Homo sapiens: one gene and its partners. The protein of the gene in region 6 purifies or fractionates together with the protein of the main gene of each other region. This does not show direct contact. Each region holds a gene or a part of one and is shown on either strand. Other genes may lie near its edges. The genes, in order: PFAS, AKR1C2, HIP1R, WARS1, PLOD1, GART and MSN.

Region 1 (3,500 bases), on a different chromosome or scaffold from region 6:
GAGACAGGGTGTTACTTTGTCACCCAGGCTGAAGAACAGTGGTTCTGTCCTAGCTCACTGTGGCCTTGAGCTCCTGGGCTCAAGCAGTTCTCCTGCTTCAGCCTTCCAAAGCACTGGGATTACAGGTGTGAGCCATGGTGCCCAGCCAGAATAAACTTGCTTTATATAAGTAGAATGAGTACATTCTAAAATAACAGTAAAAAGTATAGTTGGTTGGGCACAGTGGCTCACGCCTGTAATCCCAGCACTTTGGGAGGCCAAGGCAGGGGGATTACTTGAGGCCAGGAGTTTGAGACCAGTCTGGGGAATACAGTCAGACCCCTGTCTCTAAAAAAATTAAGAAATAAAACTTAGCTGGATATGGTGGTGTACACCTGTAGTCCCAGCTACCCAGGAGGCTTAGGTGGGAAGATCGCTTGAGCCAAGGAGCTCAAGGCTGTAGTGAGCTATGATCATACCACTGCACTCCAGCATGAGTGACAGAGTGAAACCCTGTCTCCAAAAAAGAATAAAAATAAAAAATAAATGTAGGCTGAGTGTGGTGGCTCACGCCTGTAATCCCAGCACTTTGGGAGGCCATGGTGGGCAGATCACCTGAGGTCAGGAGTTCAAGACCAGCCTGGCCAACATGGTGAAACCCCCTCTCTGCCAAAAATTCAAATATTAGCTGGGTGTGGTGGCGCGCACCTATAATCCCAGCTACTCGGGAGGCTGAGGCAGGAGAATCACTTGAACCTGGGAGGTGGAGGTTGCAGTGAGCCAAGTTTACGCCACTGCACTCCAGTCTGGACGTAAGAGTGAGACTCTGTCTCAAAAAAAAAAAAATTTTTTTTTAAGTGTGGTAAATACATAAACCAGTAATAGTCATTTATTGTCATTATGAAGTATTATGTAGTATACATACAATAATGGTTTGCAGTATACTTTTGTGTGACTGGCAGTATAGTAGGTTTATTTACAATAGCATCACCCACCAGCGTGCCACGATGCCACTAGGCAATAGGAATTTTTCAGCACAATTATAATCTTAAGGGATCACTGTTGTATATGTGGTCTGTTGTTAAGCAAAATGTCATTAGTCAGCCCATGACCAAAATGGAATCATACAATATGCGGCCTTTTGTGTCTGCCTTCTTTCACTTAGCTTAATGTTTTCAGGGGTTATCCGTTGCATCAGTACTTTATTTCTTTTTATGGCTGAATAATATCCCATTATGTAGCTATGTCGCATTTTGTTTACCCATTCCTTAGTTGGTGGACATTGGGGTTGTTTCAGCTTTTTAGCTATTATGCATAATGCTGCTATGAACATTTATGTACAAGTTTTTTTGTTTTGTTTTGGTTTGGTTTTTTTGAGACGGAGTCTCGCTCTGTCGCCCAAGCTGGAGCGTAATGGCGCTTTCTCGGCTCACTGCAAGCCCCGCCTCCCGGGTTCACGCCACTCTCCTGCCTCAGCCTCCCGAGTAGCTGGGACCACAGGTGCCCACCACCACGCCCGGCTAATTTTATGTGTTTTTAGCAGAGACGGGGTTTTGCCGTGTTAGCCAGGGTGGTCTCTATCTCCCGATCTCGTGATCCGCCTGCCTCAGCCTCCCAAAGTGCTGGGATTACAGGCGTGAGCCACCGCGCCCGGCCTATGTACAAGTTTTTGTATGAACATATGTTATAATTTCTCCCAGGTATATAACTAGGGGTGGAATTGCTGGGTCATGTGGTAACTATGTTCAGCTTTTCAAAAAATTGCCAAACTGTTTTCCAAAGCAGCTGTACCATTTTACATTCTCTCTGGCAGTGTGTGAGGGTTCCAGTTTCTCCACATGCTTGACAACACTTGTTAATATCTGTCCTTTTGATTGTAAGGCATAATAGTGGGTATGAAGCAGTATTTCATTGTGGATTTGGTTTGTTTTTCTCTAATGACTAATGATGTTGAGCGTGTTTTCTTTCTTTCTTTTTTTTTTTTGTAGAGACAGAGTCTTGCTCTGTTACTCAGGCTGGAGTGCAATGGCGCAATCTCAGCTCACTGCAACCTCCGCCTCCCGGGTTCAAGCAATTCCCCTGCCTCAGCCTCCCAAATAGCTGGGATTACAGGCACGTGCCACCACACCTAGCTAATTTCTTTTGTATTTTAGTAGAGATGGGGTTTCACCGTGTTGCCCAGGCTGGTCTCAAACTCCTGAGCTCAGGTAATCCACCCGCCTCAGCCTCCCAAAGTGCTAGGATTACAGGCGTGAGCCACCGCACCTGGCCGAGCATGTTTTCGTATGCTAGTTAGCTATGCGTATATCTTCCTTAGAGAAACATCTATTCAGATCCTTTCCTATTTCTTTTTTCTTTTTTGAGATGGGATCTCACTCTGTCACCCAGGCTGGAGTGCAGTGGTGCGATCTCAGCTCACTGCAACCTCCATCTTCCGGGCTCAGGCAATCCTCCCACCTTAGCCTCCTGAGTAGCTGAGACTACAAGCTCCGGCCACCATGCCTGGCTAATTTTTGCATTTTTTGTAAAGATTGGATTTCACTGTGTTAGCCAGGCTGGTCTCGAATTCCTGAGCTCAAGCGATCCGCCCGCCTCAGTCTCCCAAAGTGCTGGGAGTATGGGTGAGTTCTCCCACAGTTTCTACCCTGGAGCCCCCAGGCTTCAGGACCCTTCCGCATCCAGAGGTTGCAGTGAGCCGAGATTGCATCACTGCACTCCAGCCTGGGCAACCGAGCAAGACCCCATCTCAAAAAAAAAAAAAGTTTTTAGTGTATAAGCCTTACTTCTATTGTTAAATTTATTCCTAATTATTTTTATTCTTTTTGATGCTACTGTAAATAGACATAGATATTTTTGCCTTTTTCATTTTTCGCTTAGCAGTATATCTTGGAAATAATTTCATATTGATGAAATCATATTACTTCATTACATTCCTATATTCTCTTTTTTTGGTGGCTTAGTCTTTCATTGTATAGACTTACCATAGTTTACTTAATGAGGTCTCTGTTGTCAGCCTTTAGGTTATTTCATGTACTTGCTAATACAAACGTTACTGTGGTGTTTAATCTTGTAAGTAGGTGATTTTATACCTGTGCAAATAAATCAGCGGGATGACTTCCTCAAAGTGTATTTACCCAATCAGAGACTGTGTGCATTTGTCATTTTGGTTGTTATTGCCAAATCGTCCTCCGTAGTTGATATCAGTTTACTCTCCTATCAACCCAGTCAAGTGGTAAGGCTTCTGGGCTAGGCAGGGTGGCTCACGACTGTAATCCCAACACTTTGGGAGGCCGAGGTGGGCGGATCACCTGAGGTCAGGAGTTTGAGACCAGCCTGGCCAAGATGGTGAAACCCTGTCTCTACTGAAAAAATACAAAAATTAGCCGGGCACGATAGCAGGCGCCTGTAGTCCCAGCTACTCAGGAGGCTGAGGCAGGAATATCGCTTGAACCCAGGAGACGGAGGTTGCAGTGAGCTGAGATCACACCACTGTACTTCAGCCTGGACAACAGAGCGAGACT
Region 2 (3,292 bases), on a different chromosome or scaffold from region 6:
AAACAATAATTTACGTTTCTAATCTAACCAAGTGTGTTGCGTATGATAGGCAGGTAGTAAGTAATATGTAAAGTAATAAAATAAAGTACAATTACTACCAGTATAATTATCACACTCAAAATTGTTTATTAGTGATGAGCATATATCTTCCTTATTCCTCTTCAATGTAAGGCAGAAGGAGTTCCTGTTTTTAGTGAGAATTTGAAATAGAAAAGGTCAGAATATCTCTTTGTTGACAGATGTGGGATCTGTTGTTGAGAGATGTAGAGAAACATGTTTGAACATTTCACTTTGTGTGTTTTATGTGTTAAGTTCCAGGCAGGGGAATAGAATTAAATTATTCTTTATTTTGAAAATACAGATATGATAAAGTCACGTTCATTAAACAAAGAAACACAGATTCTAGAGCAGTCAGAAAATGAACTTCTTAACATCTACACTAGCGGCAGCTTCCTAGAAATCACTGCGCTACGGGCTAGTAACGGAGTCATTGCCATTCAGAGTGTGCATTTTTTTTTCTCTTTCCAGTTTTGCTGGCCCCCCTAATTATCCATTTTCTGATGAATATTAACATGGAGGGCATTGCATGAGGTCTGCCAGAAGGCCCTGCGTGTGGATGGTGACACAGAGGATGGCTCTATGCTGGTGACTGGACACATCGCCTCTGGTTAAATCTCTCCTGCTTGGCGACTTCAGTAAGCTACAGCTAAGCCCATCGGCCGGAAAAGAAAGACAATAATTTTGTTTTTCATTTTGAAAAAATTAAATGCTCTCTCCTAAAGATTCTTCACCTACTTTGGTCTCCATAACTTCTATGTTTTCTCTCCTTCTGACACACTAGTGCCCCCAAATTGTGATTTGCCTATACGTTTAGGGCCGGGGTTGGAAGATGTTAACAACCATTTAAGATTCATTTCTGCAGTGGGAGTGGGTGGAGTTTCACCCTCTGGGAAAGGGGCAGGTGACAGGTATTTATCAGTCAGTGCCTCTCTAGCTCTTGTAGGAAGAAGCACACGCAGGATGGAGTCTAGAGGATGAGCGATATTGACTAGCAATTCATGGGCTCCCTCCAGCAGTGCGAGGGTCAGAGTTTCTGGAGCCTTGGGAGGAGGCATCCCTGTGAGGGGGGGTTAGGGAGATGGGAGGGCACCAGGAAAAGTGATTAGAAGTCAGGTATGGGAAGGCTAAATAGGACAGAGTCGAGTACATCTCTGCTTGGAAAAACATATCAACACCCTTTTTTTTGATCATTATATCTTGTTCATAAAAGAAAACTTTCCACATTGTTTTAACAAACCCCACAGCTGAGAGTCAGGCCTGAATCTTTGATGTGTGCCCATTCACAACGTTGACCCTATTGGTTTGTGGTGGGGCAGGACATCGAAGATATCATTGACTCATCACATTCCCCTGAATAGCTCATATTTAGAAAATATTCTTAGATTGTAAAAATGTACTGTTCATTTGTTATATGCAATCTTTTAAATGTTTTATACTTTAAACAAGGCATAGTTACAAGTATAAAACATAAATATCCCAAAGCCATTATGCATGGCACTCAAGATTAAAATGGGAAATAATACATCTAATAAATCAAATGTTCCAAGACTTCAAATGTCTTTTGGAAACAGGCTATGTAAAACAGCACACTGGTTTCAAACTTTGGTAAATTTTAAGAAGAACTCTTACAAAGGCATTTAATTCTTATACATAATTTTCAGGGGAACTAATCAAATCAGCTAATCATGAAGACATGATTTTCGTTTTAGAAAACACTTTTGAAAACTTGGGATAATCTCATGTCTTAATGATCAAAGCATTATGAGAAGGACAGTGGTTTTTTACCTGGGCACACTTTCTAACACATTTACTCTCCACTATTCGTACTCTGGTAGCCATGTTAACCCCATCAGAGATTCCTTCTCAAGCCATGTCTCAGAGCTGATAGGCATCCCAGCAAGTTTTGCAGCTCACAATTTTTCTGTAAATTACTTATTCTATAAAATTGGAAGAGGCCATAAACTTTGGAGGGCCCTAGACCAATTTTTTGGATTATTTCTGGTCTACTCTCATTCCGTTGATGATCTTAGATATTCTCTGCATTAAATATCACCTCTAGGCTGAGAAATCCACCAAAAAATATTTCTAGCTCAGCGTTTTCCTCCAAATCTTCAATGGAAGATCATAATGTGAACTCTGCATCTCCATGTTAAAGTTTAATGGACATTCACACTTAGCATGTCTCAAAGAAATCTCATGTAAACCATGGCCATCCTGTTCTACCTTAACTTTCTGAGTCTATGGAATGATAATTTCACATCTCATAAACTTGACTGATGTAAGTGTCAAGAAAAGATTGACATTTTGTTAAAACTTCGTAGCCAAGTGTGTAACGCTTAAGCAGACTTTCATATTTCAAATCTCTATAGCACGTGTAACTCTTTTTTCAAGATGTGAAATAATCATTAGGTCAGTCATTTGTAAATAGTACGGCTGCTGTGGGCTTTTTCCAGTTCTTCACCATCCATTTTTATAAAACTCTTATTGTTAAAAAAAAAAAGTTACTCAGAATTTCATAAAGCCAAACACCTGATTTCAGGAACACTTGAGATGTAAGAAAATTTTATAGGGACCTCCAATCACTAATTTTCCTATTTTTTCTCTCAAAGAAATGCTGAAGGGAGGAATTCAGGTTGAATGAAAGGAAATAGTAACTTACAGCCATATAGAGTTATAAAGACTTCTTGTAAATGTGAACATATGGTAAAATATAAAAACATGTATTTTTGAAATTTTGGATTCTACTCATTATTTTACTTCAATTTAAGATATAAATGTATAGAAATAAGTATAATTCTAAGCTAATACGTATGCAATGTAGGAAGCTGTAATTACTGACCAAAACTATGTGAAGTGGAGAAAACCTGGGGAAGTGGATGGTTTTAGATGAAACTGAAGTTAAATTCATATTGATTTAAAGTAAATTGTCATAACTTTATAAAGTTTTTCATCATCACCACAGCAATCACAAAGAGAATAATTATGAATATACGCAAGAGGAAATGAGAAGGGAATCCAAATGTCATTAAAAAAAAATCACGCCACCTCACAAAATGGTAACAGTGGATATAAAGGATAGAAAGCTATAAACCTGGTAGGAAAACATTGAAAATGGCACAAGTGACTCCTTCCCTGTCACCAATGACAGTCATGTGTTGCATAATGCCTGGGCTATCTTCTGAGAATGGCTTTGTTAGGCAACTGTGTCATGGTGGGGACATGATAGCATTAG
Region 3 (3,500 bases), on a different chromosome or scaffold from region 6:
GGTTTTCCCAGGGGCGACAGTGGGAGGGGCAGCACGGGGAGATGCTGCCTGCCTTTGAGGGCCTGGCCCAGGGCGCTCCACACGCATAACCAGTGGGCCCTCCAGCGTCGAAGTCACCCGGGCCCTTTAGTCCTCACGAGTTGGGAAATGTGGCAAGACCACAGCCCGGGCACCTCGGTGGTTAGAGAGCCTGTGGCAGGGCGCAGGTTCCTGGGCTCCCCCAGACCTGCTGCTGAAGAATCAGGACTGGAGGTCTGCATTTTGAGCACACACACAGTAAGGCCTGAGAGCCCTGGGGGGCCTGCAATCTGGATGCACTGCAAGACCTCAGGAGTTAGAGATGTCCCTGGTGGGCAGAGGGCCTTGGCCTGGTTCTCTCTGGAGCACTGTGGGGTGCTCGTCTGCCTGGGCAGGGACATAGGAGCAGGGCAGGCCCTGGACCGGGTACCCACAGGGAGGCCTGACCAGGGCGTTATCCAACCCAGAACCACTGCCCGGACTCACTTCCCTTGAAGCGAGGAAAACACTGCCCATGGTGCCACCTGCAGATGCAGGCCCAGCTGGCCCGGCCGCAGGGGCCGTGGGGCTGGAGGAGGGAGCAGGGAGGATGTGTCCAGGCGCCCGTCGGGACGTGCCTCCCTGCCAGCACCAGCACTTTAATAAAGCGTCCCTGCTCAGAACTGGCCTGCCGCCCTGGACAAAGAGCTCTCTTCTCACAAGAGTTTCTTTGGCAGGAATGACAAGGAGGAAGATTAAGGGAAAAAGCTAGAGACAGAGAGGGTGGTTGGTGGAGGCCAGGAGAAGACGTTTGTTGAATGAAGAAGTGCCCGGTGGTGGGTCACTCTCGTGCCCAGGTCCTTGAGGACTCTTGGACGTGTTCACGAGCCGTGGCCCCTCACCCTGTCTGTCTTCACACAGGGACATTTGCATGACCGCTACGGACAGCTGGTGAATGTCTACACCAAGCTGCTGCTGACCAAGATCTCCTTCCACCTCAAGGTGGTTTCCTCGGGGGAGTCATGGGGCTGAGGGACCCGTGGGCTTTTCCCACTGTGACGTTATGGCACATGTTGGGACATCGAGGGTGGGATCTGTCCTCTCCATGAGTCTTTCCATTCACCTTCTTGTCCCAACTATGACTAAAGGGGAGACGGGGAAGCCAGGGCATCACGAAGCTCCTAGAACACTTCAGGCATTTCCGTGGACGTGGGCACGGGCTTCCCCAGGCGTTTCTGTGGACATGAGCGCTGGGCTTCCTCAGTCTCTGCTGTGCTGGCCGGGTGCTCCCCTCCTCCCAACCCCTCCACTGCCCTCTGCCACCTATGTGGGCCACAGCCTGGGTCTGCCAAGAGCAGGGTCCAGCGTGGGGCCCCCTGGTTCAGTGGCCGCTGGGTTGGGGGGGCCCTGGTTCAGTGGCCGCTGGGTGGGGGGGGCCCTGGTTCGGTGGCCGCTGGGTTGGGGGGCCCCCTGGTTCGGTGGCTGCTGGGTGGGGGGGCCCTGGTTCGGTGGCCGCTGGGTGGGGGGGGCCCTGGTTCGGTGGCCGCTGGGTGGGGGGGGCCCTGGTTCGGTGGCCGCTGGGTGGGGGGGCCCCCTGGTTCGGTGGCTGCTGGGTGGGGGGGCCCTGGTTCGGTGGCCGCTGGGTGGGGGGGGCCCTGGTTCGGTGGCCACTGGGTGGGGGGGGCCCTGGTTCGGTGGCCGCTGGGTGGGGGGGCCCCCTGGTTCGGTGGCCGCTGGGTTGGGGGGCCCTGGTTCGGTGGCCGCTGGGTGTGGGGGGCCCTGGTTCAGTGGCCGCTGGGTGGGGGGGAGCCCTGGTTCGGTGGCCGCCAGGTGTGGGGGGGCCCTGGTTCAGTGGCCGCTGGGTGGGGGTTCTCTCCACAGCATCCCCAGTTTCCCGCGGGCCTGGAGGTGACAGATGAGGTACTGGAGAAGGCAGCTGGGACCGATGTCAACAACATGTGAGTCACTCTGCATGGCTACATAGCCAGTTCCCCTCGGCTTCCCCATTCCTTCCTACCGCGTCTCACGCCCAGGCGTCCGCATGGGGCAGTGGGGTTGAATGAGTCCGTGGCTTTGTTGGTTGATGCTCACGCTCCCAGGGACAGAGGGTGAAGTTAAAAGGGTGGGGTGTACTTGAAGGACTGTCGTCCTGGCAGAGGCACGCTGTCTCACCAGAGCCATGGTGTCGGCGGTGCCCCCGTCCCCACTGGAGGGGGCGTCTCAGGACGAGTGGGTGGGTCCACCCACCCTTTTTCATTTCTTCCCCCACTTCTCTTGCGTAGCTTCCAGCTCACTGTGGAGATGTTTGATTACATGGATTGTGAGCTGAAGCTTTCTGAATCAGGTGAGCCGTAAAGAGGGGATGCGGGGGTCTGAGTGTATTGCTAAGTCCCCAGAGATGGGACGAGAAGAAAAAAGAAGACATGAGTGATCAGACCAACTGATCACTATGAAATGACCCTGGCCAGCCGCAGTGGCTCACATCTGTAATCCCAGCATTTTGGGAGGCCGAGGCAGGCAGATTGCTTGAGGTCAGGGGTTCAAGACCAGCCTGGCCAACATGGTGAAACCCTGTCTCTACTAAAAAAATATAAAAATTAGCCAGGCGTGGTGGCGCACGCCTGTATTCCCAGCTACTTGGGAGGCTGAGGCAGGAGAATCACTTGAACCTGGGCGGCGGAGATCATGCCGCTACACTCCAGCCTGGGCAACAGAGTGAGTCTCCGTCTTAAAAAAAAAAAAAAGAAAAAGAAATGCCCCTGCCCCTCCTGGGGTCCCTGCACCTCCAGGGATAGGTAATGGGGCCTCCTGGCCCCTCCAAAGCATGGCAGGCCCCAGCGGGTACATCCAGGATACAGGTTCAGCCATCTCTTCCATCCAGTGAGTGTCACTCCATCAGCCCCAAGACAGGGAGGGTGAGGAGGTGTGCACAGGAGCCACCTTGCCAGGTTCCTGCCCCAGCCTTGGGCCATCTGCAGAGCCCAGCTGGAAGAAAGGTTTGGGTCGTCCTGCCATTTTCTGCTCTAGAAAGCCTCTGAGTCACGTCAGACTTCCTAGCGAGGGAACCCGGCCGCTGTTGGACAGGAAATCTCAGAGGGCTCAGCTTCCAGGCTGGAGAACTGATTGTTCTGGGTGGCAGCTTCAAAACAACTCATGGGTGACTCAGTGCTCTCCATAAGAGGGCAAGAAGCAAATGCCTCCTTAAGGGAAAATTGGGAGTTAGAGGCAGTTTGGGCAGCCTCCCTGAGTCCCCAGGTCTGGCCAGTGCAGCTGGGCGAGCCTGATGGGTATTCAGTTCCAGTGGGTGGGAGGTGGGCTCAGAGTTGGACCCTTGTGCCTGGGAAGAGCCTGCTCAGGATCTGACATGGAGAGCAGAGGGCAGGTGTCCAAAGGTGTGGCCCCAACTGTGCAGCAGGACAGGGCTACCAGGCTCTGTGTCCTGGCAGAGATGTGCTGAGCCTGAGCCTCTCAGCACAGAGCCCACCAGGTAGGAGCCAGTTACC
Region 4 (3,500 bases), on a different chromosome or scaffold from region 6:
CTGGGATTACAGGCATGCACCACCACACCCAGCTAATTTTGTATTTTTAGTAGAGATGGGGGTTTCACCACGTTGGTCAGGCTGGTCTCAAACCCCTGACCTCAGGTGATCTGTCCACCTTGGCCTCCCAAAGTGCTGGGATTACCAGCATGAGCCACCACGCCAGCCTTGGTTATAGTTTTAAATGTATTTTTCCTTTATCAACATTGGGATGCCTGTGGTCTAAAGAGTCAGGGGTTCTCAAAGCCTTTGTGAAATACAGTGGCCCTCCAGCCCACCTCTCCCTATTTCCTGCTCAATTCTTTTAGCCGATCTTTTGGTTATGTACTCCCCATATCTGTAAATATTCTGCTTATCATATTGTTCCTTGTTGATTTTCAAGTTGGGGTCTTTCAGGTGGAAATGAAGCATTCGTACCTTCACAACCACTTCCCGTCCAGGCAGTCTCCCCATCTGTATTGCAGTTGTAGTTAGGTCAGTATCTGTACACTGACATTATTATGACCATGGAAATAGACGTGGACAGCTGAACCATCACGGATAGAATGAGTACTCTAACTTTCTCGCCCAGCTTTTGTTTTCTCTGGAGTTAATATTTGTCTTAATATCTGTTTGCTTGACTTTTTTATGTCAATGATACTAATGATAATGTATCTCCAAGCCCTTTCCCTGTCCAGTGAATCTCCTTTCAACACACATCAACTAGTCTATCAAGTTCATCTTCTTGAGGCGATCTCTCCCAAAACCTTCTGCCTGCTTCCCTCTGAAGTGGGGGCTCTTGCTTCCTACACTGCCCATCTTGGCGTCTTTCTTCACTGTCGACCCAAGGGGTTCTTTCACCCCTGTCGATTGGGTGCCCCGTTTCCTGCTCCTGCATCTTTATTCCTCTTTGCTTTACTCTTTGGGCAGAGCAAATCTTCCAATTGTTTCTGAAAAAAATATTGCAAAGGAAATATTTCTAGGGGGATCTTGCCCATCTGAAAGCGTATTTATTTTACCTAAAACATGATTGATAGCCAGGCTGGGTGTAGGGTTCTAGCATGGAAGTGATTTCCCCTGGAAATGCTGAAGCCACTGCTCTATTGGCACCTAGCTTCTGGGCTTGCTGCAGAGAAGTCAGTTGCCATTCCTTTGTTTTTTCTTTTTGGAAGTTAGCAGGATCTTCTTTGTTCCCGTGTTCTGAAATTTCATGGGATGCAGGTTCAGTATGCCTTTCTTTTTTTTTTTTTTTTTTTTTTTGCCACCCCACCCCCGCCCCCCGAGATGGAATCTCACTCTTTCACCCAGGCTGGAGTGTGGTGGCACAATCTCGACTCACCGCAACCTCCGCCTCCTGGGTTCAAGCAGTTCTCCTGTCTTAGCCTCCCAAGTAGCTGGGATTACAGGCATCCGCCACCATACCAGGCTAATTTTTGTATTTTTAGTAGAGACGGGGTTTCACTATATTAGCCAGGCTGATCTCAAACTCCTGACCTCATGATCTGCCCACCTCGGCCTCCGAAAGTGCTGGGATTACAGGCGTGAGCCACCACACTCAGCCTGCCTTTTAGACTAGAAACTCATGGCCGTTAATTCTCAGAAATCATGATTTCTTTGATCTCTTCTGTTTTCTCTCTTCACAGACTTTTTTTTTTAATTCAGAGACTGTTTCTCTGATTTTCTAACCCTCCTATTGTTTTCCATTTCTGCTATCATTTTTAACTTCCAGGAGCATGTATGCTCCCTGAAGTTTCCTCACAGCACTCTGCCCTGACTCATAGGTACAGTACCACCCTTTTCTCTCTGAGATTTTTTTTTTTAATCTTATTTTACTGTATTAAATCTTACTAATATTCTGTAAGGGACAAACCAGACGAGTAGGCTACAGTGAAGAAATCTTATTTTGGAGAGTTAAGAAACCACTATGATACTTCCAGGTATTATCTTCAGTGATGCTTCTTATCTTTATTCAGGGACTCCAGGTAATATTCAGCTCCTACAGCTACCACAAATGCAGCAAATCCCCATTTGAATCCTTTAAACAATACATCAAAAAAGGAAACACTCTTTGCAAAGCCACCCATGTATCTTCAAGCTTCATTGTGGCCCCACGGATCCCTTAGCCCTTTTTCAGCCAGCTTCTTCTGGATAGTTTCTAATGGTGTCCCTTCTGTCTTCCGTTGTCTGTAATCTAGAAGTTCCATTTTACGATGTCCATGCTCATGTCCATGTCCATGGGCCATGTCTGACAGCAATCTGACCTCTCAGGACACTCAACTCTCTCTCTCTGAGATCTTAATGGTAGTTTTCCATATGTCCTCTACATCCTTTATAACCTCAGTTTCTTCCATCTTAATTTGTTTTCTACCTGCCTTTCATATTAGAGGCAATTCTCAACTGTTTGGTGTTTCTTGGCTATTTGCTGGTGTTTTGGGGGGTGCACTGAAAGCTGCTGGATGCACTCTTCATTGGGGAAGAGCTTATCAACATAGGTTCCACTTCCTGGAGAGTGACCAGGCTGCTCCCCTTTTGTTGGGGAATCTTTCGTGTCAAGGTCTTTAGATCTTTTCTTTAAAGTTAAGTGAGATTCCCCAGAGAAAGCTCCCCCAGTCCACTGTTCAGAGGGGGTGAGTCCCGCTGCCAGAGTTCTACGGCTGAGTGGGAGAGAAGGGCTGGGCTGTGGGATCCTTCCCCGAAGCTCCCTATTCTCTGTGTGCTGCCAGTGCCCCAACTGTGCAGACTGCCCCCAGTCTAGGCACCTGTAACTCTGTCCTCTCTTGACATGAAACCTTGGAATGGAGGGGAAACTGTGACACTCCCTTGGCCGAGGGGAGAGGGATTCTCAATAACTGCTTCTTGAAGAGACTTCAACCAGCGCTCCTGTTTTCATAACCCGCTTTCCTGCCCCCACTCCTGTAAGTGCGCAAGGTCACTAAGGCCCGAACCTTTGGGTGATTCCGTAACAGTGTACACTCGGTCACCTTCCAGTATTTCCATGATGTCTTAGCATTTGTTTTTCTCTCATGCTGTTAGGCACTGATCATTCATCAGCTTTCTGGCTTCTGAAACCTTGTTGCTGTCATCCTCTTCTTGTTTCCTTTGTCCTTGTGGGATTATGCTTTAAAAAAAAAAAAAAAAAAGAAGATCTCTGCTTTTGTTGTAGTAGATTTCAGAAATATCATCATCAATACGCATCTTTAACTAGAACATAAGCATTTCATTTCCTTCTGGGGTGACTCCACTCCGGCTTCTCCATGACTTCCATCACTTTTTTTTTTTTTTTTTTTTTGAGGCTGAGTCTCACTCTGTCGCCCAGGCTGGAGTGCACTGGCACAGTCTTGGCTCACTACAACCTCTGCCTCCTGAGTTCGAGCGATTCTCCTGCCCTGGCCTCGTAAGTAGCTGGGACTGCAGGCGCCCGCCACCACACCCGGCTAATTTTTGTATTTTTAGTAGAGAGGGGGTCTTGCCATGTTGGCCAGGCTAATCTTGAACTCCTGATCTCAGGTGATCCGCCCGCC
Region 5 (3,500 bases), on a different chromosome or scaffold from region 6:
AGACCATCCTGGCTAACACGATGAAACCCCGTCTCCACTAAAAATACAAAAAATTAGCCAGGTGTGGTGGCAGGCGCCTGTAGTCCCAGCTACTCGGGAGGCTGAGGCAGGAGAATGGCATGAACCCGGGAGGCGGAGCTTGCAGTGAGCCGAGATCGTGCCACTGCACTCCAGCCTGGGCGACAGAGCGAGACATTGTCTTAAAAATAAATAAATAAATAAAGATGCAAATTCACACACATCACTTAATGACTTTCCACTGCACGGAGAATAAAATCCACAGGCCTCTTTTCAACCTTAGATGGGGATCTGCCATCTGCCCTCAACAGACACTTTTTTCCACTGGTCCAGAGTAAGCACAGTCCAGATGGCCTTGCCCTGGCCCAGGCCCAGGAGTAGGGATGTCCCATTGCTCTTGTGGTTGCTTGTCACCAGTCTGTACTCTAGCCAGGGGCCCATGTGGGCTTCCCCACTATGCCAGGTCTCAGCCCCCAAGGCACTCTGTGAGCTTGGCCCAGCCTTTCCCTTCTCTGGGCCAGGTTTCCCAGATAACTGTAAAAAGGGACACCAGGCCTGTATCCTCCCAGCCCTGCTCTCCAGGGGCTCCTCGTACAATCCGTTTCTTCACCACCTATATGGTGCCCAGCACTGAACAGTACAGCTTAGTGGGCACCATTGGTCTTATTCTTGGGGTCATTAGGAACTCATTAATAAGTGACATTCACTGGCAGCCCCATTTCCAACCTGCAGCCCCACCTCCTGTCAATTCAGGAGGACTTCTGAGAGGTGACAGGGTTTGTGGGCATATGAGTGGAGGTGGATAAGAGGGAAGGGTGGGAGGAGGCCCCTGACTTAGAGGCTGGAAGCTAAGGGTCCGTCTTGGTGTCCCCACCCACCAACCTTCAGGCTTCATCGGTTATGCCCCCAACCTCAGCAAACTGGTGGCCGAGTGGGAGGGCCAGGACAGCGACAGCGATCAGCTGTTTTACACCAAGATCTTCTTGGACCCGGAGAAGAGGGTAAGAGGCAGTGGGCGGGCCAAGGAGAGGGGGCTGGGGATCCACCGGCCAGGCTGCACGGGAACAGCTCCTCTCAGGCCTGAACCCCTGGGTTGGTGTCTTAGTCTATGCAGGCTGCTCTGACAAACTGCCATAGGCTGGGTGGCTCCCAAACAACGGATGTGGATTTCTCATGGTTCTGGAGGCCGGAAGGGTGAGATCACAGTTGGGTTCTGGTCAGAGCCCTCTAACTGGTACAGACACAGCTGACTTCTCTCTGTGTCCTCAGATGGTGGAAGGGGGTAGGGAGCTCACTGGGGCCTCATTGATAAGGACACTAATCCTATTTTTTTATTTTTGGGATGGAGTCTCACTGTATTGCCCAGGCTAGAGTACAGTGGTGCGATCTCGGCTCACTACAGCCTCTACCTCCCTGGTTCAAGCGATTCTCGAGCCTCAGCGTCTCGAGTAGCGGGGACTACAGGCGTGCACCACCACGTTTGGCTGATTTTTGTATTTTTAGTAGAGACAGGGTTTCACTACGTTCGCCAGGCTGGTCTCGAACTCCTGTCCTCAGGTGATTTACCCGCCTCGGCCTCTCAAAGTGCTGGGATTACAGTCGTGAGCCACCGTGCCCGGCTGTCGGGTCTTAAAGAGGCAGCATTGTTCATTGGTTCAGAATAAGGACTTCAGGGCCAGGCTGCCTGGGTTCCAATCCCAGCTCACCATTTACTAGCTGTGTGACATTGGGCAACTTCTCTGTCCCTTGTTTTTTCCGTTATGAAATGCAATAATGGGCCAGACCCAGTGGCTCATGCCTGTAATCCCAGCACTTTGGAGGCCAAAGCGGGTGGATCACCTGAGGTCAGGAGTTTGAGACCAGCCTGGCCAACATGATGAAACCCTGTCTCTACTAAAAATATAAAGATTAGCCGTGCGTGGTGGTGGGTGCCTGTAATCCCAGCTACTCAGGAGGCTGAGGCAGGAGAATTGCTTGGACCTGGGAGGCGGAGGTTGCAGTGAGCCGAGATTGTGCCATTGCACTGCAGCCTGGGTGACAAGAGCCAGACTCCATCTCAAAAAAAAAAGCAATAATGATAATACTTTCTCACAGAGATGTTGTCAGGATTAAATTGATTAATATATGTAGAATAGTTTATTTATTTATTTGAGACAGGGTCTCACTGTCACCCAGGCTGATGCGCAGTGGCAGAAACATAGCTCACTGCAGCCTCAGCCTCCCGGACTCAAGCGATCCTCCCACCTCAGCCTCCTGAGTAGCTGGGACTATAGGCCTGCGTCACCATGTCTGGCTAATTTTAAGATTTTTTTATAGAGATGAAGTTTTGCTATGTTGCCCAAGCTGGTCTCAAACTCCTGGGCTCAAGTGATCCTTCTGCCTCAGCCTCCCAAAGTGCTGGAATGACAGGAGTGAGCCACCGCACCCGACTCGTGTAGAATATTTGGAGTAGCGGCCAGGTGCGGTGGCTCACACCTGTCATCCCAGCACTTTGGGAGGCGGGGGGCGGGGGCGGATCACCTGAGGTCAGGAGTTCGAGACCAGCCTGCTCAATGTGGTGAAATCCCATCTCTAGCAAAAAAAAAAAAAAAAAAAAAAAAAATTAGCTGGGTATGGTGGCACATGCCCGTAGTCCCAGCTACTCAGGAGTCTGAGGCAGGAGAATCGCTTGAACCCAGGAGGCGGAGGTTGCAGTGAGTCGAGGTCGTGCCATTGCACTCCAGCCTGGGTGACAAGAGCGAAACTCTTTCTCAAAAAAAAGAATATTTGGAGTAGCTATGTGCGTGTAGTGGAGTGCTTGGCAGGTGCTGGTTACTCTTAACGGCCGTCATTGTTGTAGGTGAGCCGGCTGCATTCTTAGATTCCTTCCAGTTCAGAGTCCCTGGTTTTCTGTGAGTAGAGCCACTAGACTGTAGACCCCAGGAGCTTGGCTGCTGGCCTTCTCTGGGCACCTAGCTGCCCTGATGTGACGTGGCAGAGTCGGTGTGGGGAATGAGGGCTGAACTTGGGGACAGATTCCCCACACTGGGTGAGATGTAGCCCCAGCCTCCCCCAGGGCCTGTCCCTGCTGCAGTCTGGTACCTTCTTTCCTGCAGGAGCAGATCAATATCACCCTGGACCACCGCTGCCGTATCTTCCAGAACCTGGATGGAGCCTTGGGTGAGCAGCCCCCACGGGGAGGGGTGGATCCTCAGAGGGGTGATAGGAAGAATTCCAGGCAGGGCCCGAGCCCAGGGAGGAGAAATGGGCTGCTTCTTTCTGGCCATTGTGCTGAGAGGTCACTGGCCTCATCCCCAGGTCCCCAGGGGCCACTTGGATATCCTGGCGCAGAGCCATGTCTCTCTTGGGGGCGGGGGACAAGTGAGCATTCAGCCTGGGAGGAGTTGGGGGATGCGCACAGCAGGTGCTGGACCCCCTGCCCTGCATACCAGGTCCTTACAGGTGGGCCCTCTTTCCCCACTTTCCCGGCCCTCCCACCTTCC
Region 6 (3,500 bases):
ACCGCACCTAGCCAAGTTAAAAAAAAAAAAAAAGAAACTTGTGGAAATCGTAAATCACTTCACGGTGTGAAATACTGTTGCTATTTGAAATCATATGTCAAATATGCTCTCTTCTAGGGTTTCCTGAGGCTCAAGCTCTAGGACTGGAGGTGTTCCATGCAGGCACTGCCCTCAAAAATGGCAAAGTAGTAACTCATGGGGGTAGAGTTCTTGCAGTCACAGCCATCCGGGAAAATCTCATATCAGCCCTTGAGGAAGCCAAGAAAGGACTAGCTGCTATAAAGTTTGAGGGAGCAATTTATAGGAAAGACGTCGGCTTTCGTGCCATAGCTTTCCTCCAGCAGCCCAGGTAAAACTCTAAGCAAGTTAGCTGTAGTGCCATTTCAGAAACTGGCCTAAATGGCTATGTAGAACATTTCATTAACCCTATAAGTCATTCAGTATTCTTTTCTCTCTGTGGGAGTGATACAGTCTTGGTTTGTATTTTGTTTGAATCAAAACTGGTTATAGCAATACTCAAATGGAAAAAACTTCATGATAGCGTAAGTTTGGAAAGTTTAGCAAAATCACAGTGGTACTGATTTTTATTTGTTTTCTATTTTTTTTATTTTATATTTTTAATTTTTTTAACAGGGTCTTCCTCTCTCGCCCAAGTTCTCATGCCTCAGCCTCCCAAATAGCTGGGACTACAGGCACAGGCCACCACACCTGGCTAATTTTTTTGTATTTTTTGTGGAGATGGGGTTTCACCATGTTGCCAAGGCCAGTCTGAAATCCTGGGCTCAAGTGATCCTCCTGCTTTGGCCTCCCAAAATGCTGGGATTATAGGCATGAGCCGCTGCACTTGGCCTGATACTGATTTTTATTCCTTGCGTTATCACATAGTGTTGTATTTGAAACATAGTTCATGGTTTTATCAAAGAACTGAAGATGAGAATACTGGTCATCTAACTTTGTAATTTGATTTGATTATACTGTAAAGTTTGACAGTCTCATTTTATCACTGCGTTTGTATCTATTACTAAAATGTATTTTTTGACCTCTTACTGATTCATTGTTGGTATGTACAAACTGTTGACTTGTAAAATCAATAAAGTCTTAGTTGGAAATGTGGGTGTTTTGATTTCTTTTTTTTTTTTTTTTTTTTTTTGAGACAGAATTTTGCTCTTGTCGCCCAGGCTGGAGTGCAGTGGCATGATCTCGCCTCACTGCAACCTCCACCTCCCGGGTTCAAGTGATTCCCCTTCCTCAGCCTCCTGAGTAGCTGGGATTACAGGTGCCTGCCACCGTGCCCAGCTAATTTTTGTGTTTTTGGTAGACATGGGGTTTCACCATGTTGGCCGGGCTGGTCTCGAACTCCTGACCTCAGGTGATCTGCCTGCCTCAGCCTCACCAAGTACTGGGATTACAGGCGTGAGCCACCGTGCCCGGCCTGATTTCTTAAAAATATATCACATTTGCTATTGTTCGTGAAGTTCATTTACGGATAATGAATAAATTTTAAGACAAAATTTTTTTACCAACGTAATTCAAGCTATACTGTTACCAAGAGGCAGGTTTTTTTAAAGTTTAAACACAGATTTTCCAAGAATCAAGAACATCAAAATACCAGGCTAAAAATTTATTTTTCATTTAAAAATGACTAGATTCCATTGAAATGACCTATTTCAAGGGACTGCAATCTCAATTCTAGTCTGAATTATTTAAGTTATAAAGATGAAAAAATGGAAATGCCACAGTGTTAGTTGCTACTGGAGAAAAGGTTTTTTAACATCAGTCTTTGTTTTCTATCTGAGAGTGACCCAGAGCTGCTGGCTTTATTTGAGTTAACTGCCAATGCACTCAACTGTATTCTGGCAGCTTTTTTGTTTTTTGTTTTTGTATGCTTTTTTTAAAGACACTTCTATAAAAACACATATTTCTTCATGTATCACTGCATCCCAGCAGGCCAGAGTTCTCATTTTTGCAAGTCAAGACTACAAAATCTGCAGTGTCATTCAAAAATTTGATCTCTAAATGTACTGCTCCGACTTGTGGGTCCTATACAGAAGGAAATGATGCACTGAGTATCTTTACCTGGTTTTGCTTTTGTCATAGTGTTTACTGTCCTCAGCTATTAGGAAACAGATACAGTTATATATTACTGAAATTAAGAACTCAGTTTAATTATTTAGGGATACTTGTGTACGGTTTTTACAAATCTAATTTTCACTTTTTTGACTTGATTAGGCATTCCTCTCTTGTTCATACCAAAATTGAACTGAGAAAAGTTGCAGCAAAATGTCAGTATATCTACTTTTAAACAGATGGTTGCCAGGGTCTGGGGTAGTGGGGAATGGGGAGTTATTTAACTGGGACAGACGTTCAGTTTTACAAGATAAAGGATTATGGAGATGGATGATGGTGCCGGGTGCACAGCATTATAATTGTATTCAATACTATTGAACTGTTCACTTAAAAATGGTTAAGATGCTGAATTTTATGTTGTGTATATTCTACCTTAATAAAAAATCATTTAAAAGAATCAGTATATTTAGCAGCCTGTGAGAAGTACTTGTAGAAGAAATAGGTGATTGAGTTAGAATAGCGGTTCTCAGGGATGATGTAATCAAGTCAACTGGGGAGATGGTTCAAACTCATTTCAATTCCCAGAGCCTGCCCTAGACCAGTTAAATCAGAATCTGTATAGATGTGGCCCAGGCACTGACTTTAAAAAAATTTAAGCACTTTAGGGTATGTGAAAATCACTTGGGATATCTTCTGCTTTAAATAATATTTTAAGATTAAAATAATTTTCCCTGACGTTTAGGTGATGACTTGTTTTTAATTCTTTAGGAGTTTGACTTACAAGGAATCTGGAGTAGATATCGCAGCTGGAAATATGCTGGTCAAGAAAATTCAGCCTTTAGCAAAAGCCACTTCCAGATCAGGTCAGTGATCCTATACTTTGCTAATTCATTAACTTTGATATACATTGTGAATGGATTTGGGTTTTATATTTAACAGGAATATTTTCCAAAGCAATGCTTGGTTACTGTAAGTTTTGCCCTGCTTAAGCCAAACCCAGTCTTCTGCTTTCTTTTCTTTAATATTAAAGTATTTCTCATCTGTCATGTTAAACTCAAAAGGATATGTATGCTCCTTTACTTTTTTTTTTTTTTTTTTTGAGACAAGAGTCTTGCCCAGGCTGGAGTGCAATGGCACCATCTCGGCTCACTGCAACCTCTGCATCCTGATTTCAAGCGATTCTCCTGCCTCAGTCTCCCAAGTAATTGGGATTATAGGCACCCACCATCATGCCTGGCTAATTTTTGTATTTTTGTAGAGACATGATTTCACCATGTTGGCCAAGCTGGTCTTGAACTCCTGACCTCAGGCAATCTGCCCACCTCAGCCTCCCAAAGTGCTGGGATTATAGGCATGAGCCACCATGTCTGGCTGGTCCTTTAGTATTTAATTACTTCCTTTTTTTTTTTTTTTTTTTTTGAGACAAAGTCTGG
Region 7 (3,500 bases), on a different chromosome or scaffold from region 6:
GTGTAGGCTGAAGGGAGGTAGAGAGAGGACACTAGTCACATTTTCCTGCTTGAGACTAGGCCTTGCTGTCCTAAGAAACTTTAGAGAGTAATTTCTTCATCGTATTCATAGCCAGAGGGGTTAGGCAGCTTGTTCGAGGTCACATATAGTTGGTAACAGTATTGAAAGGAGAACTTGGATTTCCTAATTCCCAAGTTAGTGGTCTCCCACTGGACTTGGCTGTCTTAGAAGGATGACTCCACCCAGAGAGCACAGACTTCCAGAGAACTGGCTCTGTGGTGATTACATTAACAAGATGGGTACAATGGAGTTCCCCTAAAATGGTTTTGCTATAGCAAGTTTTTCTGGGATCTCCGATGACTGTCTTCTCTTCCTGTCTACCCCTCACCCCAGTTCCCTGCTTTCTCTTTGCCCTGTTTAATTTTGAGCTCTGACCTTTTTGAATTCTGAATTCTGACTCAGCGCTCCAGCTTGATCTGTCCCTTGAGTTAGGAGAACAGTATGGCACTTTTTCAATTTAGTGACAGTATTTGCTGCTGTAGCAAATTGTTTGAATGCAGACTAGAATCTCCTGGCCTCAAAGTTCACCACTCACCTCTAGGTGCTTATAGGCCAAGCCTGGGGCAGGAAGCTAAAAAAAGACCTTTCAAGCCTCCGTGGAAAGGAAGCATAGAGTAGTGTTGAAAAACAGACTCTGGAACTAGACTGCCTGGACTCAAATCTAGCTCTGCGACCAACTAGTTATATAGCCTTGGACAAGTTATTTAACTTCTGCACCTCATTTTCCTTAACCATAAATAATAATAGTACTTACAGAGTTGCTGTGAGGATTACATGAGGTAATTTATGTAAAGGGCTTAGAACTGTGCCTAGAATCTAACAAGTGATATACAAATGTTATGATTATTTACTGAATTTTACTATATGCCTAACTTTGTGCTAGATGGGATGGATAAGAAAGAAGACAGGTAGTTGAATTCTTACCATTTAATGAGTGGTTACTATGTACTATTTACCATAAGGGATAGAAATAAATGAAGGGATGATACAACTGCTGCCTTCAAAGATCTCCTATCTCCTATTTAATTGGGGATTTAGGGCTAATTCACTTAAAAACGGCTTGAGAAAAATATATACTTTGCATTGCATTTTCTACAACTTTTTGAGGAGAAAGGGTTTACTGGGACATGAACAGGGCCTTAAAGGGTGTGTACACTTGGGAGCAGTGGCCGTTCTGGGTGGGAAAGTGATGTGTTTTTGGTATGTGGGTGTAAACCAATGGCCCTAGACCAATGCTCTCTTGAAAGTTACTTTATCTGAAGTGAAGGGAGGCTTGAGCTGCTGACTGATTCAAGGGGAGCCACAGATATAAGCATAGATGAAGCTACTCTTTCTAGGGTAATTTGGATCCAACAATCCTTTCTTAATTGGCAAACAAGGGCCTGTGGGGGAGACCATACCTTTGGTTTTCCAGAATTGGGCAAATTAATTTTTTTTTTTTTGAGATGGAGTCTAGCTCTGTTGCCCAGGCTGGAGTGCAATGGTGCAATCTTGGCTCACTGCAACCTCCGCCTCCTGGGTTCAAGCGATTCTCGTTCCTCAGCCTCCCAAATAGCTGGGATTACAGGCATGCGCCACCACGCCCAGCCAATTTTTGTATTTTTAGTAGAGATGGGGTTTCACCATGTTGGCCAGGCTGGTCTTGAACTTCTGACCTCAGGTGATCCACCCGCCTCAGCCTCCCAAAGTGGTGGGATTACAGGTGTGAGCCACCACGCCCAGCCTGGGCAAATTAATTTTTAAAAATGTTGCTTTTGTTGCCTAAGTAGGTATGTGAGAGGGTCTTTTCTTCATGCTTACACATGAACTAAACCAAAGAATAGAGCTTGGCAATAACTTTATGTCAGCAGCCTAGAAACAGCTTTTAATTCTCTCATTGACTTTGCTATAAAATCAGGTATTTGGGAAAGGGTGGAGATGGCAGGGAGGATTTCTCAGTGTGTGGTTGTTAGAGGTGGAGGAGTATGACGTTTTCTGGCCAGGGCACAGCTGCAGCATCTGGGTCTTGAATTTGGAGAAAAGGCCTTTTGGGCGACTTTCAAAGCACAGCCCTTTGTCTGTGCCTAATGACACAGATACCAGATCTGATGCTCCTTTCAATCGGCTTGTTGTGGCATAAGGTAAGTGTTGACATAGCTCTTAGGCCACTAATATGGCAAATGGCTCTGTGCTTGCTTAGTAGAACTGTTTTGCCAGTTATCTTCTGTGATTGGTGACTTCGAATATTGAAGTTTCTTCCCATTCCTGGCAACCCTTCTACCTTGTGGGAATTTGATAGATACTTTGTGCATCCAGGGTAGTGATCAGGGCCTAATGAGAGAAGAGTTGAGATATGACAATTTGGTTGTACAAAACAAGATATAATCCTGAAAATTTTTTTCCTGGGTATATATTTGGGAAGTGACTGGGGCCAAGGCCTAGGAGGGGGAACAAGGCATACCTGTCAGGCTTGATCAGTATTTCTTTCCCTCTCTTTAGCCTTGGCCTCCATTAAATACCTGAGAAGGATCAAGTCTTATTTTTCTCAAGTTGTGTGTTTAGATAAGGTTCCTGATCTTACTTTCGTGATCTAATCTGCCTTCCCTCCAACCCATGATCCATTTCCTTTTTTTTCTTTTCTTTTTTTTTTGAGACGGAGTCTTGCTCTGTTGCCCAGGCTGGAGTGCAGTGGCATGACTTTGGCTCACTGCAACCTCCATCTCCTGGGTTCAAGAGATTCTCCTGCCTCAGCCACCCAAGTAGCTGGGACTACAGGTGTGCGCCGCCACGCCCGGCTAATTTTTATATTTTTTTTAGTAGAGATGAGGTTTCACCATGTTGGCCAGGCTGGTCTTGAACTCCTGACCTCGGGTGATCTGCCTGCTTCAGCCTCCCAAAGTGCTGGGATTACAAGCGTGAGGCACTGCGCCTGGCTGATCCATTTATTTTTTCAGATTCTCAGCCTGGATGTTTGATGAAGCTCACCAAGAGCCTCTTTTATCTGTTGTAATTTTTAACTGAGGTTGACTAATCTATGGTATAGAGTTGGAGGGTGAGGGTCAAGGTAACAGTCAATCTGGGCATCATTAGTTAAGTCGTACAAATCTTTGCTATTTTCAAGGGTTTTAAGTGAGCTAAACTCCTCTCCAAACATCCTTGTAGATACTTGTGGGAGACTGACTAATTCCTTTACAAAGAAGAAAAGTCACATAACTTCTTTGCCTTTTAATTTTCTTTTTCTCCAACATGAAAATATCAGCAATATTAGAAAGAGGCACATGGAGTTTGCGTGTGGTGGCTCATGCCTGTAATCCCAGCACTTTGAGAGGCTGAGGCAGGTGGATCATTTGAGGTCAGGAATTTGAGACCAGCCTGGCCAATATGGTGAAACCTTGTCTCTACTAAAAATAGAAAAAATAGCCGGGCGTGTTGGCGGGAGCCTGTAATCCCAGCTACTTGGG

What was found.
Region 1: the proteins of GART (region 6) and PFAS fractionate together in Homo sapiens (co-fractionation; one large-scale study listed by BioGRID). This does not show direct contact.
Region 2: the proteins of GART (region 6) and AKR1C2 fractionate together in Homo sapiens (co-fractionation; one large-scale study listed by BioGRID). This does not show direct contact.
Region 3: the proteins of GART (region 6) and HIP1R fractionate together in Homo sapiens (co-fractionation; one large-scale study listed by BioGRID). This does not show direct contact.
Region 4: the proteins of GART (region 6) and WARS1 fractionate together in Homo sapiens (co-fractionation; one large-scale study listed by BioGRID). This does not show direct contact.
Region 5: the proteins of GART (region 6) and PLOD1 fractionate together in Homo sapiens (co-fractionation; one large-scale study listed by BioGRID). This does not show direct contact.
Region 7: the proteins of GART (region 6) and MSN fractionate together in Homo sapiens (co-fractionation; one large-scale study listed by BioGRID). This does not show direct contact.

The regions. Positions count from the first base shown.
Region 1 is NC_000017.11:8,259,289-8,262,788, forward strand, and holds part of PFAS (phosphoribosylformylglycinamidine synthase), read left to right. Parts: intron 1-3,500. UniProt on the Homo sapiens protein: Phosphoribosylformylglycinamidine synthase involved in the purines biosynthetic pathway. Catalyzes the ATP-dependent conversion of formylglycinamide ribonucleotide (FGAR) and glutamine to yield formylglycinamidine ribonucleotide (FGAM) and glutamate.
Region 2 is NC_000010.11:4,987,275-4,990,566, reverse strand, and holds the end of AKR1C2 (aldo-keto reductase family 1 member C2), read left to right. Parts: intron 1-528; coding exon 529-571; 3' UTR 572-2,792; downstream 2,793-3,292. UniProt on the Homo sapiens protein: Cytosolic aldo-keto reductase that catalyzes the NADH and NADPH-dependent reduction of ketosteroids to hydroxysteroids.
Region 3 is NC_000012.12:122,848,957-122,852,456, forward strand, and holds part of HIP1R (huntingtin-interacting protein 1-related protein), read left to right. Parts: intron 1-918; coding exon 919-999; intron 1,000-1,878; coding exon 1,879-1,955; intron 1,956-2,279; coding exon 2,280-2,341; intron 2,342-3,500. UniProt on the Homo sapiens protein: Component of clathrin-coated pits and vesicles, that may link the endocytic machinery to the actin cytoskeleton. Binds 3-phosphoinositides (via ENTH domain).
Region 4 is NC_000014.9:100,365,348-100,368,847, reverse strand, and holds part of WARS1 (tryptophan--tRNA ligase, cytoplasmic), read left to right. Parts: intron 1-1,804; exon of another isoform or gene 1,805-2,260; intron 2,261-3,500. UniProt on the Homo sapiens protein: Catalyzes the attachment of tryptophan to tRNA(Trp) in a two-step reaction: tryptophan is first activated by ATP to form Trp-AMP and then transferred to the acceptor end of the tRNA(Trp).
Region 5 is NC_000001.11:11,951,717-11,955,216, forward strand, and holds part of PLOD1 (procollagen-lysine,2-oxoglutarate 5-dioxygenase 1 isoform 2 precursor), read left to right. Parts: intron 1-906; coding exon 907-1,019; intron 1,020-3,113; coding exon 3,114-3,177; intron 3,178-3,500. UniProt on the Homo sapiens protein: Part of a complex composed of PLOD1, P3H3 and P3H4 that catalyzes hydroxylation of lysine residues in collagen alpha chains and is required for normal assembly and cross-linkling of collagen fibrils.
Region 6 is NC_000021.9:33,521,618-33,525,117, reverse strand, and holds part of GART (trifunctional purine biosynthetic protein adenosine-3), read left to right. Parts: intron 1-117; coding exon 118-349; coding exon of another isoform or gene 350-353; exon of another isoform or gene 354-1,109; intron 1,110-2,835; coding exon 2,836-2,930; intron 2,931-3,500. UniProt on the Homo sapiens protein: Trifunctional enzyme that catalyzes three distinct reactions as part of the 'de novo' inosine monophosphate biosynthetic pathway.
Region 7 is NC_000023.11:65,674,154-65,677,653, forward strand, and holds part of MSN (moesin), read left to right. Parts: intron 1-3,500. UniProt on the Homo sapiens protein: Ezrin-radixin-moesin (ERM) family protein that connects the actin cytoskeleton to the plasma membrane and thereby regulates the structure and function of specific domains of the cell cortex.